Linked DNA regions of Homo sapiens. The protein of the gene in region 1 purifies or fractionates together with the protein of each later gene. This does not show direct contact. Each region holds a gene or a part of one and is shown in the gene's direction. Other genes may lie near its edges.

The links.
Region 2: the proteins of FIGLA (region 1) and NES purify together in Homo sapiens (affinity purification with mass spectrometry; one large-scale study listed by BioGRID and IntAct). This does not show direct contact.
Region 3: the proteins of FIGLA (region 1) and TINAGL1 purify together in Homo sapiens (affinity purification with mass spectrometry; one large-scale study listed by BioGRID and IntAct). This does not show direct contact.
Region 4: the proteins of FIGLA (region 1) and HSPG2 purify together in Homo sapiens (affinity purification with mass spectrometry; one large-scale study listed by BioGRID and IntAct). This does not show direct contact.

The regions. Positions count from the first base shown.
Region 1 is NC_000002.12:70,775,501-70,781,632, reverse strand, and holds the end of FIGLA (factor in the germline alpha), read left to right. Parts: intron 1-3,961; coding exon 3,962-3,996; intron 3,997-4,250; coding exon 4,251-4,266; 3' UTR 4,267-4,323; downstream 4,324-6,132. UniProt on the Homo sapiens protein: Germline specific transcription factor implicated in postnatal oocyte-specific gene expression.
Region 2 is NC_000001.11:156,668,263-156,671,335, reverse strand, and holds the end of NES (nestin), read left to right. Parts: coding exon 1-2,014; 3' UTR 2,015-2,573; downstream 2,574-3,073. UniProt on the Homo sapiens protein: Required for brain and eye development.
Region 3 is NC_000001.11:31,574,011-31,580,471, forward strand, and holds the start of TINAGL1 (tubulointerstitial nephritis antigen-like isoform 1 precursor), read left to right. Parts: upstream 1-2,504; 5' UTR 2,505-2,585; intron 2,586-3,123; 5' UTR 3,124-3,138; coding exon 3,139-3,448; intron 3,449-3,833; exon of another isoform or gene 3,834-3,887; intron 3,888-4,134; exon of another isoform or gene 4,135-4,178; intron 4,179-5,193; coding exon 5,194-5,257; intron 5,258-6,461. UniProt on the Homo sapiens protein: May be implicated in the adrenocortical zonation and in mechanisms for repressing the CYP11B1 gene expression in adrenocortical cells. This is a non catalytic peptidase C1 family protein.
Region 4 is NC_000001.11:21,824,767-21,829,310, reverse strand, and holds part of HSPG2 (basement membrane-specific heparan sulfate proteoglycan core protein isoform b precursor), read left to right. Parts: intron 1-231; coding exon 232-476; intron 477-884; coding exon 885-1,056; intron 1,057-1,158; coding exon 1,159-1,281; intron 1,282-1,391; coding exon 1,392-1,448; intron 1,449-4,085; exon of another isoform or gene 4,086-4,531; coding exon 4,532-4,544. UniProt on the Homo sapiens protein: Integral component of basement membranes. Component of the glomerular basement membrane (GBM), responsible for the fixed negative electrostatic membrane charge, and which provides a barrier which is both size- and charge-selective.

The DNA.
Region 1 (6,132 bases):
ATGGTCTGTTCCTCTGCTTTTTGCTGAGTAGTCATCTGTGGTGTGGATGTACCACAGTTTAACTGTTCACGTAAATATTTTAGAACATTTTGGTTGTTTTTATACAGACATTTTTATATTAGTATGAGCTCATGGTTTTCTGTTTAATTCAGTGGATTATTATATACTATCATTTTTTATTATTTTATTGCTCCAATTGTCCCCACTGTGGCCAGCGAAAGCTCCTTAAGCTGGCAGCCTTTCTGTTTGATATGTCATCACGATTATTTGATCATTTCCTTTTTGGCAGAAGGTGTTCCAAGCTCATCTTGTACTTTTCTATCCCAGCCCTGGAATCAGCCACTTATCTGAGGATGCCCCTGTGTATAACCCATCTCCCATCTCTGTTGCCATCCCCTCACCACATGGCTGTTCTCCTCACCCACTTGAACTTTAACACTCATGGCAAGCTGTACCTCCGCAAAAACCTCCTTCTTGGCTCTGACGTTCCACGCCGGTCCCCTCATATGTGGATTCCTCCTCTCCCTGCTCTCGCTAAATCACCTGCACACACAAGTGCCTGGCCTACTCAGCTCAGGTTTCTCTACTCCATGCTGAACTGCCCCTTTCCATGGACTTCTTACCCAGCTTGGGCTCTGAGTCCCCAGGCCAGGCCTCCACTCCTTTCATGGGGCTGCCGTTCTCATCCTGATTGGGCTGTACCATGTTTGCACTGGACCACACCCCCCATGTGAATATGCCCCTCATCTGCTGGATCTCTGATATCCTGCGCTGGGCTGCCTCTGTATGTGGGTGCCATCTCACCCTGCTTGGGCTCTGATACCACTTCACTTGGGTCACTGTGGCTTCTCACTACCTAACTGTGACCCAACTGATGACATTAGTACTGAATTGTTTAGGAGGGAGAAGAACTCGCATTTTCTTTGAAGTACCTACTGTGCAGCCGTCTTTCTGGCTAGTTTTCTCTTTGTTAACATTTATCTCTGAGATCTTTAATTATATGTGAGTTGAGCGATTATTCAATATCACCTTTATTAACTGTATAAAAAGCTTGCATTTTACAATCAGGAACCAGGGTGGGCTCAAGATAAAAAGGGTCCAAGGAAGTGATGCTCAGGCTGACCTTTATTTGACAAAAGGATCCTCGTAAAGATTCAGCCCAGCTTTCCTGAAGCGGTGACTCCATAAGGTTTCAGGATCCTGTCCAGACTAGAGACCTAGTGACAGATAATGTGACTCATTGGACAGAAATGCTCATATCCAGAGGAGCTTAAGATTTGGGAGGCAGGCCCTCTCCAGCTTCAGTTTGCAGGAGTGGCACCCTTTTCCCTACCCTTGATGAGGACCCAGGGAATGAAATCCTGGTAGTGGCAGGGATGGGCGTTTTGGGGGATTTGGAGATGGGGTCAGAGCAGGCTGTGCAAGATCAACAACATTCCTGGGAGGCAAAGTCCCAAATGAAGTGCATGAGAATCTGCTGATGACAGGGATGGAGATTAACGTCTGGGGCCAGAGCCCCAGAAGTTCACTCGGGGAATGAATTGGCAAGTATTCGTGCAGACAGAGAGGGCCGTGAGCCATGAGAAGCCACAGCATGTGGTGTTGGTAGGGAGAAAAATTAATTTCAAGGTCCAGGAGAGGCCTGTTTAAAATTAGAGCTTCAAAGTGTAGGTTTTTGCCATATTGGGGTTGGCATTGCTAGATGGCAGGCTGTTCGCTGTCTTGCCATTGTATATTCCTTCTATTTGCCACTCGTGGTTATGGTTCTGGCATTTCATATTATGCATGGCTCTAAATTTTGTTCAGAGTTGCCAGTGACACTGTAGAGACCATGTCTCTAGACAAAGACCACCCTCAATTTTGGAGTGAGATGCCAAGAGTGCTGGGGCTTGAGGGCCTTTGGAAAGGGACATATGGAGAGACATAGTATCTGTTACAGGGGCCTTGGTATGCTGCCAGTATATATTTCCAAACTCTGGCATGTCATGGGAATGTTCCTTGAAAGAGTTTCTGAGAGAAAGAATCCTGTGTGGATGGTAGACTCCTACCACCCCTGTTCCAAGTTGCGGTAATCTGTGAAATTACTCACTGGGGACATTTCTTCCTATAGCATTTTAAGCTCTGAAATGAGACGGTTTGGCTAGTTGGGATGAATTCATTAGCACCTTGGGAAAGACCTGAAGCCTCTTTCTTCTGTCTTCCACCTCACATTCCCCCAGGTAGTGGCTCTATACGATGGTAAAACTTCTACCACAGTAAGTGATGGGTCTCGCTTTGCTTGAGAAGCACAGTCATCTGCCCTGGGGTTCACCAATAGCCCATGGGGCATATTCTGATGAGATTAGTCAGCCCAGCATTTTCCAAAGTTGTTTCCCATTTAATGGGGTGGGTGCCTTCTGGTTTGTCCCAGTCCTCCCCACTCCTTCCTGCACCAGAGTAGCATATTTCACCTGGTAAGGTGTTGGGATTTTCTGCCCTGGTCTAAAGGCACAGTGGCTCAGAGGAAAAGCTGCTCCGGCGACTGCATTTATAGCCCTGGGATTTTACTGTGCTCTCTATACTTTGGGGATTTAGGGGCTGGTGCTGTGATGGTGCCTATGCTTGTGGTTCTCTGGGATTTTGGAAAGAGCCTTGCTTTTCAGATTATCATAGGAACAGGGACTGAACTCTAAAGCTGAGTGAGCAAGGATTTCTGTTTACCCCATCTCCCTCACCAAGCCTGGCTCAGTGGGTGGAGGAATGTACATTGGATAATACGTCAAATTCTGCAGCCACACTGCCAACAATTGGAGTGTGCCTGCCTTCTTAAAGATATTAAGCAGCAAACTGGGTTTCTATTCTCCAGACTACCCTCTTCTTGGACCTTAAACTCTTTGGCTTAGATGAGACCAACAGCCAATTTTTAATGAGCTGTGACAATAAAGACAACATTTATAAACTTTGGCAAGTTTTTCTATTCTCATACTTAAATATTACGTTTCTGAAATTTTCCAGCTAATTCTTAAAAACAAACTAAAATAAATGTTCTAAAATGCAGTAGACTATAGGCAGAATATTGTCATCCTTTAATCCTTCAGGTAAATTTATATGAATTTGTCTCAAGTATAAAAAATTCTAAATATGAAAAAAATTAAAATTTATTTTAAAAATAAAGCTTCCAAAGCTAGGTCTGAACTATAAAAAGAAAGAAATGTTGATCACTTGTATAGTGGAAAGACTCGATCAAGATTAGAAAAAAAAAGCTACTCATACATATTTTGTGTCAGAGACTGCTCCTGGCAGTGTATACATATTAACCTATTTAATTTTCACAACCACCCTGTGCTATACAAACAATTATATCCATTTTACATGTGAGGAAACTAAGGAACAGAAGTAACTTGCCCAATACCTGCAAGTCAGTGAAGTGTTGGGGTTGGGGGGGATGTGGGTGATAGTGTTAAGTCCTTTTTAACCACTTTCGTTCTAACAAAACTCAACTTTGAAATGTAAAGGAGGGTGGACTAGAAAATAGATAAATGTTTAAGGCTAAGTTAAAGCATTTGATTGCGGTGCTTTACCATCCACAGTGATGTACATAATAGGTTTCAGTATCCAAAATGCCTGACCATGACTTGAGCGGCTTTATTTTTCAGTCATGGGTTTATTTTTTCTTCAAGTTGAGAGTTTCAGAAAATTGAGCAGAGACAAAATGATCTTGCCACGTTAGTAAAACCACTGATGGAAATACACTAAAATCCTTCCCATTTCTTTTCCTTTGCAACTAAAATAAAAAATTATCATCAGGTACATAACATTGTGTGCCTGTTCTTGATTTTTCTATCACTGGCATGTTTATGTGACCCATTAGGTGGGACAATTTTTTTACTGTTGGCCACTATGTTCTCAGTTTTTTGTTCTCTTAAACGTGACAAATAACCGATGTGTTTAGCCCTTTCTGTATTTTGTATTGTTTTTGCAGGATAGATTCCCAGAAGTAGAACTGCTGAGTCACAGGTAGGTCATTCTATAACCTGATGCATAGTGCCAATTTATAACACCACTGGCTGTATAATAAGAGTGCTAATTCCATCACATTCTTAGCAATGAGCTCTATTAAAAGAAGGAATCTTAATGGGTAAAAAAGTAGTATCTTTAAATTTAAACATCTTTGATTACTAATAAAATTAATTTTTTGCATATTTCTTTATTTCTTTTGTAAACGGTTCTTATTTTTAACTATTTATAATGGAATGTTTTCTCTGTTTCAGACTTCCACAAGTATGAAAAATGAAAAGGCCCAGGGTTACCTTCTAGAGACAAATAAATGCAGTCTTGAAAGTTTTGGAGTCTCTCTTTTTTTTTTTTTTTTGAGATAGAGTTTCACTCTTATCACCCAGGCTGGAGTGGCACGGTGTGATCTCGGCTCACTGCAACCTCCGCCTCCTGGGTTCAAGTGATTCTCCTGCCTCAGCCTCCTGAGTAGCTGGGATTACAGGCATGCGCCACCACGCCCAGCTAATTTTTGTATTTTTAGTAGAGACAGGGCTTCTCCACGTTGGTCAGGCTGGTCTCGAACTCCCGACCTCAGGTGATTCAACCACCTCAGCCTCCCAAAGTGCTGGGATTACAGGAATGAGCCACTGTGCCCCGTGGGAGTCTCTTTTTTAAAAAAGAAGTTTTGTAGTAATTCCGAGTTTAACAATTACCCTTTTAAATAGCCTTGCCTCTCTCAAGTTTACTCCACTCTGCCTTCTCCTTAACTTCATGCTTTGAAGAAATAGGCTTCAGGGGCTTCATCCTTTGCTTCCAACTCACTGTCATCCTCTGGGGACCTACATCTTTTTTTCATTGCTTTGAGAAATAAGTGACTGTTACCCTTCCAATAGAAATTAACCTTAATAGAAATGAAGACTTAAGCTAAAAGAGTTGTAAACATTGGCCAAGGGGAGTGAGAGTTTTCAAGGGTTTCTAGATACCCAGCTAAGGCCAAATGGCACCTTTTGTGCAAGGTAGACAGCCAAACACCTTGAGCACAAAGACTTCGTCTTTATAACCATTGCTCACAAAGACATAGTACTTATTATATGCTGGATTCTGTTCTCTATGCTTTCCATGTGTTAACTTGTTCTTACAACAAGCGTAAGATAATGGCATAAGTATCCCCATTTCACAGATGGGAAAACCAAGGTACAGAAAGTATAATTAGCTTAGCCTGCCTTAACAAATACCATAGACTGGGTGGCTTAACAACGGAGATTTATTTCTTATAGTTCTAGAGGCTGGAAAGTCCAAGATTATGGTCTGGCATTGTTCAGTTTCTGATGAGGGCTTTCTTCCTGGCTTGCAGATGACTGCCTTGTCACTGTGTCCTCATATGGCAGAGAGATAGCTAGCTTTGGTTTCCCTTCTTCTTATAAGGGCACCAATCCTATTGGATTAGGGCTCCATCCTGATGACTTCATGTAATCTTAATATCTCCTAGAGACCCTGTCTCCAAATACAGCCTTATTGGGGGTTAGGCTCTCAATATATGAATTTTGGGTGAACATATGCTGTTCATAGCATTCTGTCCCTAGCCCTTCCCCCAAATTCATTTTATCACATGCAAAATATATGCATTCCACCCCAGCAGCCCCCAGAATCTAAACTCATTCTCACTTTAAAGTACAAAGTCTCATTTAAATATCTTCTAAATCAGGTATGGGTGAGACTTGAGCTATGATTCCTATCTTTCTCCAGCTGTGAACCTCTGAAACCAGACAAGTTATGTGCGTCCCAAGCACAATGGTGAGACAGGTGTAGGATTGACATTCCTATTCCAAAAAGGAAAAATAGGAAACAAAGTGTTAATGGGTCCCAAGCAAGTCCAAAACCTATTGAGGCAAATTCCATTATATCTTAAGCCTCAAGAATAAATCCTCTTTGCTTTGATGCAGTGTCATCCTTGTGGCTTGGCAGGGTGACCTTCCCTCGGAAACTGAGGAGGAACTCAGCTCTTCTCCTGCCTGTGCCCCCTCCTCCAAAACATACACACACACACTGAGTGGCCACCCTGATCTCTGAGTTGCCTTTGGGGTCATTTCTTTCCTTTGCTTAAATAGTGCATGTTTGTAGCCAAATAGTGATATGGTCTAGTCCTATAGAATCTGA
Region 2 (3,073 bases), on another chromosome or scaffold:
GGAAGATACGGTGGAGAAGGACCAAGAACTGGCTCAGGAAAGCCCTCCTGGGATGGCTGGAGTGGAAAATGAGGATGAGGCAGAGCTGAATCTGAGGGAGCAGGATGGCTTCACTGGGAAGGAGGAGGTGGTAGAGCAGGGAGAGCTGAATGCCACAGAGGAGGTCTGGATCCCAGGCGAGGGGCACCCAGAGAGCCCTGAGCCCAAAGAGCAGAGAGGCCTGGTTGAGGGAGCCAGTGTGAAGGGAGGGGCTGAGGGCCTCCAGGACCCTGAAGGGCAATCACAACAGGTGGGGGCCCCAGGCCTCCAGGCTCCCCAGGGGCTGCCAGAGGCGATAGAGCCCCTGGTGGAAGATGATGTGGCCCCAGGGGGTGACCAAGCCTCCCCAGAGGTCATGTTGGGGTCAGAGCCTGCCATGGGTGAGTCTGCTGCGGGAGCTGAGCCAGGCCCGGGGCAGGGGGTGGGAGGGCTGGGGGACCCAGGCCATCTGACCAGGGAAGAGGTGATGGAACCACCCCTGGAAGAGGAGAGTTTGGAGGCAAAGAGGGTTCAGGGCTTGGAAGGGCCTAGAAAGGACCTAGAGGAGGCAGGTGGTCTGGGGACAGAGTTCTCCGAGCTGCCTGGGAAGAGCAGAGACCCTTGGGAGCCTCCCAGGGAGGGTAGGGAGGAGTCAGAGGCTGAGGCCCCCAGGGGAGCAGAGGAGGCGTTCCCTGCTGAGACCCTGGGCCACACTGGAAGTGATGCCCCTTCACCTTGGCCTCTGGGGTCAGAGGAAGCTGAGGAGGATGTACCACCAGTGCTGGTCTCCCCCAGCCCAACGTACACCCCGATCCTGGAAGATGCCCCTGGGCCTCAGCCTCAGGCTGAAGGGAGTCAGGAGGCTAGCTGGGGGGTGCAGGGGAGGGCTGAAGCCCTGGGGAAAGTAGAGAGCGAGCAGGAGGAGTTGGGTTCTGGGGAGATCCCCGAGGGCCCCCAGGAGGAAGGGGAGGAGAGCAGAGAAGAGAGCGAGGAGGATGAGCTCGGGGAGACCCTTCCAGACTCCACTCCCCTGGGCTTCTACCTCAGGTCCCCCACCTCCCCCAGGTGGGACCCCACTGGAGAGCAGAGGCCACCCCCTCAAGGGGAGACTGGAAAGGAGGGCTGGGATCCTGCTGTCCTGGCTTCCGAGGGCCTTGAGGCCCCACCCTCAGAAAAGGAGGAGGGGGAGGAGGGAGAAGAGGAGTGTGGCCGTGACTCTGACCTGTCAGAAGAATTTGAGGACCTGGGGACTGAGGCACCTTTTCTTCCTGGGGTCCCTGGGGAGGTGGCAGAACCTCTGGGCCAGGTGCCCCAGCTGCTACTGGATCCTGCAGCCTGGGATCGAGATGGGGAGTCCGATGGGTTTGCAGATGAGGAAGAAAGTGGGGAGGAGGGAGAGGAGGATCAGGAGGAGGGGAGGGAGCCAGGGGCTGGGCGGTGGGGGCCAGGGTCTTCTGTTGGCAGCCTCCAGGCCCTGAGTAGCTCCCAGAGAGGGGAATTCCTGGAGTCTGATTCTGTGAGTGTCAGTGTCCCCTGGGATGACAGCTTGAGGGGTGCAGTGGCTGGTGCCCCCAAGACTGCCCTGGAAACGGAGTCCCAGGACAGTGCTGAGCCTTCTGGCTCAGAGGAAGAGTCTGACCCTGTTTCCTTGGAGAGGGAGGACAAAGTCCCTGGCCCTCTAGAGATCCCCAGTGGGATGGAGGATGCAGGCCCAGGGGCAGACATCATTGGTGTTAATGGCCAGGGTCCCAACTTGGAGGGGAAGTCACAGCATGTGAATGGGGGAGTGATGAACGGGCTGGAGCAGTCTGAGGAAGTGGGGCAAGGAATGCCGCTAGTCTCTGAGGGAGACCGAGGGAGCCCCTTTCAGGAGGAGGAGGGGAGTGCTCTGAAGACCTCTTGGGCAGGGGCTCCTGTTCACCTGGGCCAGGGTCAGTTCCTGAAGTTCACTCAGAGGGAAGGAGATAGAGAGTCCTGGTCCTCAGGGGAGGACTAGGAAAAGACCATCTGCCCGGCACTGGGGACTTAGGGGTGCGGGGAGGGGAAGGACGCCTCCAAGCCCGCTCCCTGCTCAGGAGCAGCACTCTTAACTTACGATCTCTTGACATATGGTTTCTGGCTGAGAGGCCTGGCCCGCTAAGGTGAAAAGGGGTGTGGCAAAGGAGCCTACTCCAAGAATGGAGGCTGTAGGAATATAACCTCCCACCCTGCAAAGGGAATCTCTTGCCTGCTCCATCTCATAGGCTAAGTCAGCTGAATCCCGATAGTACTAGGTCCCCTTCCCTCCGCATCCCGTCAGCTGGAAAAGGCCTGTGGCCCAGAGGCTTCTCCAAAGGGAGGGTGACATGCTGGCTTTTGTGCCCAAGCTCACCAGCCCTGCGCCACCTCACTGCAGTAGTGCACCATCTCACTGCAGTAGCACGCCCTCCTGGGCCGTCTGGCCTGTGGCTAATGGAGGTGACGGCACTCCCATGTGCTGACTCCCCCCATCCCTGCCACGCTGTGGCCCTGCCTGGCTAGTCCCTGCCTGAATAAAGTAATGCCTCCGCTTCAAAGTCTGGACTCTTCTTTCCCCCACTCAGAGGGGACCCTCAGGGTTAGTACAGGAGAGAGATGGCGGGGGCGGGCGGGGGGTGGCGGGGGAGAGGAGGAAGCTGGTGCTGGGGAGGGGCTGCCTCCTGAGGAGAGGAGGACCTGGGGGGATGAGGGCAGACAGACCCAAGCTGCAGGGAGCAGTGCTGGGGCCTGGGGAGGGCCAGGGGCTGTTGCTTGGCTGGGGGAGGCCAGTCCAGGTGACCTCAGCGCCTGCAGAAGCCAGGCCCATCATCATCTCTGCCCACAGTACTGATTACAGGGATTAGGCCTTGGGGCCACCCCCACCCTTGTATACCCCCCCCCATTAGTGCCTTGGTGCCGCCAGCATAATAAGCCCCCTTGTCTCTAAACCCAAACAAGTTGTCTGGCCTGATCTCCTCAGCCTGACTGGGTGGGAGCAGGGTGAGGGAAGAGGCAGGCCTGTTCTTCCTCAGTCTGGCTGCATGGCCTCAGGTCAGCA
Region 3 (6,461 bases), on another chromosome or scaffold:
CCAGCACCCCCGGCCCTGCCCTTTTCCTCCTCGGCCAAGGAACCCAGTGAGTCACAAAATTCCACTGGGGCGGGCTCTGTGCCAAGCTGAGTGATGGTGGGAGGCTCTGGCTCTGCTCCCATCCCCTGCTCTGAGTCCCTGCCTCTTATGCACAGACAGGCAGGCAGACAAGGACAGGCAGATGGCCACAACTCCCACACAGATACACAGACACCTCTTAGACAGGGAGGCACAGGCAGGACACACACACAGACATACAAGCCAACAAGTGCACAAATGCAGGCAAACAACACACGCTGGCAGACAGACAGATCCATAATGGACACAGAGACAACATCCAGACAGATACACACACACAGATGCACAGGTATGTAGCAGATGGACAGGTAAATGGATAGACAAGCAGACAATCAGTCAGACAAGGACAGGCAGATAGCCAAAATATCCAGACTCACAGATACACAGGCACATAGCAGATAGACAGGTAAACACACTTCGGAAGGCCAAGGCAGGCGGATTGCTTGAGCTCAGGAGTTGGAGACCAGCCTGGGCAACATGGTGAAACCCCATCTCTACTACAAATACAAAAAAAATTCAGGCAGGCATGGCGGTGTGCACCTGTAGTCCCAGTTACTCAGGAAGCTGAGGTGGGAGGATTACTTGAGCCCAGGAGGTCAAGGCTTCAGTGAGTCGAGATCGCGCCACTGTACTCCAGCCTGGGTGACAAAGTGAGACCTTGTCTCAAAAAAAAACAAAAAACAAAAAGCAAAAAAAACCCAGACGATCAGATGTGGACTGACAGACTCAAGCAGAAGCAGAAACACCCCCACAAACACCGCAACTCAGATATACACATGCATACATGCACACAGAGATAACACACCCAGACTCACGAGGGTAGCCTATGCGGTGTGATTTTGGGCAAAAGAGAGGCCAGATGTCTCTAAACAAGCCCCCAGCCCCAGAACCATGAAAAAGTAGGTACCATAAAAGTAGGAACTCTGGACACGAACTCTTTTGAAAGAAAGCAGCTTTCATCTCTTACCCTGAGGATATGACATTTACCAATACCGAGGGGCCCGTCCTGCAGTAAGATGAATGGAGTTTAGATAAGAAAAGAGACTTCCCAACCAGGAGCACGTTGAGACCTGTAGTGGGTGACTAAGGGTGACTAGGGGTAAAGGAGTGGGCTGGTGGCAGGCAGGGAGCCTGTGTTCTGGCTGCACGACCTCAGGCAAGTGCATTCTTCTGAGCCTCAGTTTCCCACCTAGGCTTTGTCCTCCCAGGTCCCTGCAGGGAGCAGATGGGCAGCTCCTGGGTGTGTTAGTGCCAGTGCTGGGGCCCCCGGATATTATCCCTCCACCCCCACCACCAGGGCAGGACCCCCTTGGTGACTCACCACCCAGTGGTCCATGGCAGGGGTAACCCAGCCACAGGTGCCGGTGATCCTCGGCTCTCTCCCTTCCCCCAGGGTCTGGCCAGCTGAGGATGCCCCTTGGTTTGGGGGAGGTTTGCAGGGAGGTCAGTGGGAGGGCAAAGGGAGTCCCTGATGCCTTCCCCGGGGCCACATGTGAGGCTCAGGCCTGGGCCTGGGAGGGTTTGTCCAGGTGTAGTCTCTTTTATCCTCTTTGCTGGTAGAGACCTCTGGCCTGGGCCCAACCTGTTGAAGAGAGGGCGTTGCACAATAGGGAGGTAAAAGGTGACGGCAGACCTGGCGGGACAGAAGCCCCATTGTTTGGGTCCCAGGCCAGCCTGGGCAAAGAAAGGTTTATGCCTGCGGCAGGAAGGAGGGCCTCTGCAGGGGGTGCCAGCTGGTAGGGCCCTTGCCTTTGGACCCTTGGAGGGGGACAGGTGCCAAGCAGGATGCCCTTGGGTTTGCTAGAGAGGGCAGTGCTCGTCTAGGGGCCCAAGCAGGCAAGGGAAGGCAGACTCAACAAGGGATCAAAGGGTGCAGAGGCCACCCCCACACCCTGCCCACCTCCCAGGGATGAGCCGCCCAGGGCACCTAAGGATCATACTCCTGGAATTCCAATCATTCCTAGGAGCTGGGGTGGCTAGGGGGGCGGCACCCAAGCCTAGGGGGCACAGTGGAGAGGGGTGTGCATGGCTATTTTTATTACCGAGGGGTCAGGAGAGGCTTACAGAATTTTGCCTCACATGCCCTCCCCATCATTTCCCAAACTTGTGTCCATAACCCAGAGCTCGGCTGCCCATATCCCCCCTTCTCCACCAGAGCCCCTCAGCTCCACAGGGATGCCCACTGTGAAGTCCTTCCCAGTGTGAAACCGCAATCCTTCCTGCTTGGGGTTCCCCTAAGGGAACGGCTTCCGCCACAGGAGACCCAGCCAGGACAATCGTGTGCTTGTCGTTTCTCCACCCTGCAAGCCCATGAGTTGTGGGGTAGTTACTCCAGGTACAAGCCAGGCGCCCCTCCCTTCCGCCACTGCTGGGGCGGTGCAGAGGGCGGGCGGTACAAAAAGCGCCCCGCCCCGCGCTCCTCTCTTGACTTTGAGCGTCCGGCGGTCGCAGAGCCAGGAGGCGGAGGCGCGCGGGCCAGCCTGGGCCCCAGCCCACACCTTCACCAGGTAGGGACGCTCCCCTGCTCAGAGGGCGGAAGGTGTAGACAGAGAAGAAACAGGGGGAGGGGGCAGGTAGAGGAACCAAGACAGATGGCAGAGAGAGGGACAGTGGAGGGGGACAGAGGGACACAGGAACAGAAGAGAGGTGTACCCAAAAGACCGGGGGAGACAGGAAAGCACAAAGTCAAGGACCCAGGTCAGGGATGGAGGCTGCTGGAGGGCAGAGAGACCTAGGACAGGAGAGAAGACCTTGGGTCCACAGGATGAGTGTTGGGTGGGAGCACCAAGAATGCCACCACCCTCATTTCCTTGTCCTTGAAGGTCCCTGCCTAGGTCAGGGAGGGGCTCCGTTTCTGCCCAGTCCCCATCCCCCTATAGCCAGGGCCCACACACTGGGGCTCCTCTGCCCGTGTCCTGCCTGGGGACTCAGGAATCGGGATCTCCCTCCCTGCTGGGCCCTCTTGAACTCACAGCTCCAGGAAACTGGGAGACTCATCCCTGGTGTTCCAGGGAGTCTCTGCTGCCCACCATCTCTGCCCCCCAGGGCCCAGGAGCCACCATGTGGCGATGTCCACTGGGGCTACTGCTGTTGCTGCCGCTGGCTGGCCACTTGGCTCTGGGTGCCCAGCAGGGTCGTGGGCGCCGGGAGCTAGCACCGGGTCTGCACCTGCGGGGCATCCGGGACGCGGGAGGCCGGTACTGCCAGGAGCAGGACCTGTGCTGCCGCGGCCGTGCCGACGACTGTGCCCTGCCCTACCTGGGCGCCATCTGTTACTGTGACCTCTTCTGCAACCGCACGGTCTCCGACTGCTGCCCTGACTTCTGGGACTTCTGCCTCGGCGTGCCACCCCCTTTTCCCCCGATCCAAGGTGGGCACTAAGATGGCCAGGAGGGTGGGTCACTTTGTCCACCTCAGACTCAGCAAGGCTCAAGAGCAAAGCTGATGGATGCACTGACATTTCCAGGGGAAGCTCTGTAGAATCTGGGACTCTTCCCTGCCCCTCTGGGAACTTTACTCTCCAGCAAGACTGAAGAAGCTCCTTGGTTAGAATTCTAATTTGGCCCAGGGAAAGGGCAACCTCCCACATTTTCTCCCAATCCTGTCTCTTTTCCAGACACGGAAGGTGCTGGCCGCACCTGCTGACTCACTCTTGGGCTGATAAGGCACATATGGGTTGGTGAGGGTCATCTTAGCCATTTTTCTGCCTTTGCTGAGGATTCTAGGATCCTGTGCCCCGAGATGGCTGCTCATACCTGGGAGATGGGTCAAATCTTTTCCTGCTTTCAGCCTCACCATCATCCTTTTCCATGCACTTGCCCCTGTCCAATAGGAGAATCACTTGCGTTCCTTCCCACAGTTCCATGGGGCTTGGGCCGGCAGACTGCATACCTGAGCTGTCATCTCAAGAGTGCTGTGTTATCTTAGGACGGTTGCTTACCTTCTCTGGGCCTTGGCTTCCCCATGCTCCTCCCACTCCCCATCTCCAAGCCCTAACTTATTTAAATGGAAAAGGATCCCAGGAATGTTGTGGCTGGCATCCAAGTAAAGTAAGAGGAATCCAGGTTGGAATCATTGAAGAACTTCCCAAACAGCAGTTGGTGTGTGACCCTGCAGGATTTGTCTTCAGTTATAGTTTAATTTCAGTGAGAGCTGGTGTGTGTGTGTGTGTGTGTGTGTGTGTGTGTGATGTCTTCAGTTATAGCTTAATTTCAGTGAGAGCTGGTGTGTGTGTGTGTGTGTGTGATATCTTCAGTTATAGTTTGGCTTCAATTTCAGTGAGAGCTGGTATGTGTGTGTGTGTGTGTGTGATGCCTTCAGTTATAGTTTAATTTTAGTGACAGCTGGTGTGTGTGTGTGTGTGTGTGTGTGATGTCTTCAGTTATAGTTTAATTTCAGTGAGAGCTGGTATGTGTGTGTGTGTGTGTGATGTCTTCAGTTATAGCTTAATTTCAGTGAGAGCTGGTGTGTGTGTGTGTGTGTGTTGTCTTCAGTATAGCTTAATTTCAGTGAGAGCTGGTGTGTGTGTGTGTGATGTCTTCAGTTATAGTTTAATTTCAGTGAGAGCTGGTGTGTGTGTGTGTGTGTGTGTGTGTGATGTCTTCAGTTATAGCTTAATCTCAGTGAGAGCTGGTGTGTGTGTGTGTGTGTGATGTCTTCAGTTATAGTTTAATTTCAGTGAGAGCTGGTGTGTGTGTGTGTGATGTCTTCAGTTATAGTTTAATTTCAGTGAGAGCTGGTGTGTGTGTGTGTGATGTCTTCAGTTATAGCTTAATCTCAGTGAGAGCTGGTGTGTGTGTGTGTGTGTGTGATATCTTCAGTTATAGTTTGGCTTCAATTTCAGTGAGAGCTGGTATGTGTGTGTGTGTGTGTGTGATGCCTTCAGTTATAGTTTAATTTTAGTGACAGCTGGTGTGTGTGTGTGTGTGTGTGTGTGATGTCTTCAGTTATAGTTTAATTTCAGTGAGAGCTGGTATGTGTGTGTGTGTGTGAGACAGAGAGAGAGAAAGAGAGAGAATCTTGGAAAGGTTCAAGGTACCTGACCTCCAAGGACCTGGCCAATTAGCCCATCCTCTCTGGTTCTGGTTCCACTTCTCTTCTCTTCCCTTCCAACAGGATGTATGCATGGAGGTCGTATCTATCCAGTCTTGGGAACGTACTGGGACAACTGTAACCGTTGGTGAGTGTTTGGAGCTTAGAGGGGTCTTGCTTTGTGAGCCTGTGGCTGACAGACTTGGTTCAAATCTTATCCCTGACCCCTTTTGCAAGGGAGAAGTCTTTTCCCTTCTTTGAACCTCAGTTTCCTCATCTGCAATAGAGGAATTTTAACACTGACCAAGTCAACTTATCTAACATCATTCCAACAACATTCCTCAAGCATGGCCAGCCATGGGTGCCTGGCCCAGGGGTCACCCTTGAACTGAGATCCTTCCCCACCCCTCCTGGCTTGGGCTGGGCTATTCCTCCCAGCTATTCCTGCTGTCACTGCAGAGTCAGAGGGAGAAGGGGGCGCCAGGAAGGAAAGCTCTGACTGCAGCATCCGCTGCCCTGAGCGGATGAGGGTCAGGGATGGCTGAGCGGGCGGCCAGCCAGCCTCTAGCAGGGCCTTCCCTGAAATGTGGCCCCTTTTTCCTTCCCCACCCCTCCCCACCATTCCCAGTAGGAGGAGGAAGGGGTCATGGGTACCCCCCTATTCAGTCTGAGATGGGAAGTGGAGAAGGGCCAGGTAGGAAACCCTGAAAGCCTTAATAGAAATAATGGGGAGCCTGCGACTTGGAGGAGGCGGCCCTGCACCCACTCCACCCCCACTCCCTCTTTGCCTGGGACTAAGAGGCCCCAGAGAGAAGGAAACTTTTTGGAATGCATTGCGCATAAGATATTTCCATTGCCTCACTAGGGTGAGGGGTGCCCGGGTCACAGTGAGGGAGGGAACGTTTCAGCATGTGTCTGGGTGTTCAGCGTGACTGTGTGTGCACTGTGTGTGTGTGTGTGTGTGTGTTCAAAAGGATAAAACATGCCTGGCCCGCGTCTGCAGGTTCTGATAGGATGGCTCTGGACGTTGAGGGGTTAATGCGCTCTCTCTCTCTCTCTCTCTCTCTCTCTCTCTCTCTCTCTCTCTCTCTCTGTCTCTCTCTCTCTGTCTCTCTCTGTCTCTCTCTCTCTGTCTCTCTCTCTCTCACTGCTGTCCCTGGCCCCTTAGGCCCCCTCTGGAATGCTGGGACCTGCTACCACCGGCCCTGCCTGGACCTGTGTGGGCAGCCCTGGGGGCAAAGGAGGAGATGGCAGGAAAGGACAGAACAGTCTACTGCCCTCTCCTCATGAAGGCTCTGGGGGCGAGGGTGGGGGAGTGTCCAGGGTGTCAGAGCCCTCAAAGGATGCTTCCA
Region 4 (4,544 bases), on another chromosome or scaffold:
GGAGGCATGGGAGGATAAATGCAGGGATCAGGGCAAGTCCCCTCTTCCTGTGCATTTCGTCTCTGTGTCACTTGAGGCCAATCCCTAGCCCTCTCTGAGCCATGGGCTCCTCATCTGGAATACAGAAGGCTGTAGGGCATTCCCCATCTGCTCAGGGCCCTGTTTGTGGTGGAGAGGGCAGGGAGCCCCGTGTGCCCCCATGTGCCCAACCCTGCCTGGCATCCTCCCCAGGGCTGGCCGTTCTGCGGAGCGCCGAGCCGCTGGCCCTGGGCCGCTGGCACCGTGTGTCTGCAGAGCGTCTCAACAAGGACGGCAGCCTGCGGGTGAATGGTGGACGCCCTGTGCTGCGCTCCTCGCCCGGCAAGAGCCAGGGCCTCAACCTGCACACCCTGCTCTACCTGGGGGGTGTGGAGCCTTCCGTGCCACTGTCCCCGGCCACCAACATGAGCGCTCACTTCCGCGGCTGTGTGGGCGAGGTAAGAGCAGCCTCCTCGGGACAAGCGGGAGGGGAGGGGTGCCAAGCCTTGTGTCCCCCTCGGCTCTCCAAGCACCTTGGCATTGGGCCCCTCCACCTGCAGCCACCCACGGGCCCTGGGCCAGGACACTGTACCTCTGAGCCTCAGTTTCCTCCTCTGTAAAATGGGCATGATCACACCTACTTTGAAAGGTTGGGCAGAGGATTGTCTGCACTGACGGATGAATGTTTCTAGCACACAGTAGGCACTCAACTCCTGCGCCTCCCTCCCCACACCGAGAATCCATGCTACCACTCAGGGCCCAATGTGGGCTCCCAGCTCCCCTCTGCTGCATTCTTCTCCCTGCTGGTACACCTGGGTCTCTGCCTCCCAGGCCCCTTTAGTCCCTCGGTGTCCCTGTCCCCACAGGTGTCAGTGAATGGCAAACGGCTGGACCTCACCTACAGTTTCCTAGGCAGCCAGGGCATCGGGCAATGCTATGATAGCTCCCCATGTGAGCGCCAGCCTTGCCAACATGGTGCCACGTGCATGCCCGCTGGCGAGTATGAGTTCCAGTGCCTGTGTCGAGATGGATTCAAAGGTGGGAAAGCCTGCCCAGGGCACCGGAGGGGAGGGGCACAGGTGGTCAGCGACACCTCCAGCCCATGCCCACCCACCCACTCGCCTCTGCCCTGGCCCACAGGAGACCTGTGTGAGCACGAGGAGAACCCCTGCCAGCTCCGTGAACCCTGTCTGCATGGGGGCACCTGCCAGGGCACCCGCTGCCTCTGCCTCCCTGGCTTCTCTGGCCCACGCTGCCAACAAGGTACCCAGGCCTGGCTTCTCTCCACTTCATCTCTGTCTTGGGGCCCCGGAGCTCGACATAGTACCCACGGGTGTCTATGCCCACCAACTGGACCCTGCCCTTCTCCATAGGCTCTGGACATGGCATAGCAGAGTCCGACTGGCATCTTGAAGGCAGCGGGGGCAATGGTGAGTACTTGCCATGGCCTCCTCCCCAGCTTCAGCTCAGCTCACTCTTCCAGTTACCCCACACCCTCAATTCTGGCCTGCAAGCAAAACAGCTTTATATGAGGAGCTTGCTGGGCAGAGAGACAGAATGAAGACCACAGCCATGTGGAGCTAGGGCCTGCCCCACACTTACTGGCTGGGTGACCTTGGGCAGGCCTTTGAAACCACTCTGACCTCAGTTTCCTCCTCTGTATTCATGTATTCAGTCAACAAACTATTGTTGCCCATCCTTGCCCTGAGAGCAGTAAATATAAGATGCATAAAGCAAGACCCTCATTCCCAAGAATTCCACCGTCTACTGAAAAGCTAAGGAAACAGTGAAGAGTGAATGCTGATTGAATGTTTACGGACACTGTGCTAACCCCTTTACAGACACATCTCTTCTTATGTATCACTAATATAATAGGCGAGGCAGTGGTATAGTGGGTAAGAGTATAGACTTGGAGCCAGCCTGCTTGGGTTCAAATCCTAGCTCTCCCACTTACTAGCTGTGGAACTTTGGGTGAGTCGCTTAACCTCTCTGTGCCTCATATAAAATGGAGATGAGTAACATCTTTCCCTAAAGATTTGGATAAAATTTTATGTGAGAGTAAAATTACTTAGTGCATTTTTTTTTAAGGTGGAGTCTTGCTCTTTCACCCAGGCTGGAGTGCAGTGGCACAATCTCGGCTCACTGCAACCCCCGCCTCCCAGACTCAAGCGATTCTGCTGCCTCAGCTTCCTGAGTAGCTGGGATTACAGGTGCCTGCCACCACACCCCGCTAATTTTTGTATTTTTTGTAGGGATGGGGTTTCACCATGTTGGCCAGGCCTGTCTCTAACTCCTGACCTCAGGTGATCCGCCCCCCTTGGCTTCCTAAAGTGCTGGATTACAGGCGTAAGCCACCGTCCTAAAGTGCTGGATTACAGGCATAAGCCACCGCGCCCGGCCACTTAGTGCATTTTAAATGCCTAGAACAATGTGTGGTACAGAGTCAGTACAGAATGTTAGCTGTTGTTAATATTATGTTCAGCTGGCCGGGCACACTGGCTCACGCCTGTAATCCCAGCACTTTAGGAAGCTGAAGCGGGCAGATCACCTGAGGTTGGGAATTTGAGACCAGCCTGACCAACATGGAGAAACCCCATCTCTACTAAAAATACAAAATTAGCTGGGCGTGGTGGCACATGCCTATAATCCCAGCTACTCCGGAGGCTGAGGCAGGAGAATCGCTTGAACCTGGGAGGTGGAGGTTGCCATGAGCCAAGATTGCATGCACCATTGCACTCCAGCCTGGGCAACAAGAGCGAAACTCCCTCTCAAAAAAAAATACTATATTCAGCTGGGTATGGTGACTCACGCCTATAATCCCAGCACTTTGGGAGGCTGTGGCGGGCAGATTGCTTGAGCCCAGGAGTTCCAGACCAGCCTGGGCAACAAGGCGAAATCCTGTCTCTACAAAAAAATACAAAAAGTAGCTGGGCATGGTGGTGCTCATCTATGGTCCCAGCTACTCAGGAGACAGGCAGGAGGATTGCTTGAGCCCAGGAGTTCAAGATCAACCTGGGCAACACAGGGAGACCTCATCTCTACAAGAAATTTAAGAATTAGCTGGGTGTGGTGGCACATGGCTATGGTCCCAGCTGAGGCAGAAGGATCACTTGAGCCCAGGAGGTCGAGGCTGTAGTGAGCTACAATTGTGTCACTGCACTCTAGCCTGGGCAACAGACTGAGACCCTGTCTCAAAAAAATAAAAAATAAGGCTGGGTGCGGTGGCTCACACCTGTCATCCCAGCACTTTGGGAGGACAAGGTGGGTGGATCACCTGAGATCAGTTCGAGACCAGCCTGGCCAACATGGCGAAACCCCATCTCTACTAAAAATACAAAAATTAGCCAGGTGTGGTGGTGCACACCTGTAGTCCCAGCTACTCGGGAGGCCAAGGCAGGAGAATTGCTTGAACCTGGGAGGTGGGGGTTGTAGTGAACCAAGATTGTGCCACTGCACTCCAGCCTGGGCCACGGAGCGAGACTCCATCTCAAAAATAAATAAATAAAATAAAAATTATCTATATATAATATTCATTCATAGGGTTGTTGTAAGGATTGAGTTAAATGCAGTGGTGTCTGTAGCTGGATGGGACGCTCCCCGCACAGCCACATCATAGGTGTTAGGTAAATGTCAGCCGTTCTCCTCATCATTTGGTGGAGGGTAGCAGAGGGTCCCCTACTCTTGTCCCCTGCCAGAGCTACTGTGGCCAGTGCCGGCCTGTGGGATGGGTCATGAGCAGATAGGGCTGGGGGGGTGTGGAGCCACACACAGTATGGACATCCTGGGCCAGTCACTCGCCCAAGCCTGCCTGCTCTTCTGTAAGATGGAGAGAACACCAAGGCTCTGAACCATTTATTGCCACAGTCCAAGGTGACCAACGGTCCCAGTAGCTCCGGACTGAGGGGTTTCTTGGGATGTGGGACTTTCAGGGCTAAAGCCAGACAGAATTTGGCAAGTAGAATGGCGGGTCACCCGACACGGATCCTGTTGACTACACAAAATAAAATAAAATAAAATACATTGATTTAAGGAAAGCAATTATGCTGAAGTAAAGTAATCAAAACATGTTTTAAGTTTCCTGACTTGCTATATATGTGCTTCTTTATTAACACATCAAATAACAAGATCTGGTGATCTCAGTAGCTACCACAATTTCAAAGCAGCAATATGTGTAAATGATATTTTGAAATATTTGCAGCTACTGTCATGTGATAAGCAAATACTAGTAACAAAGTTGCAGGTCCTACCACTGCTACTTTGGTTTCTTGCCTACATCTCATTGAAAGAACTGCTCAATTTCAGTGAGAAGTGAGTGAAATTGAGGTGTAATGCTTTCCCATCCAAGGTCATAGGCTCCCTGAATTCTGTTGGCAGCCCCCGTGGGTCCCCAGGGACTGCAGGCTCGGAGCCCCCTAGTCCTGCATGTTGGCGTGGAGGTGGGGGTCAGGGGAACTGACGGGGGATTTTGATGCCTGATGCAGCAGGTATGGCACCACCCTCCTCTCTCCCACAGATGCCCCTGGGCA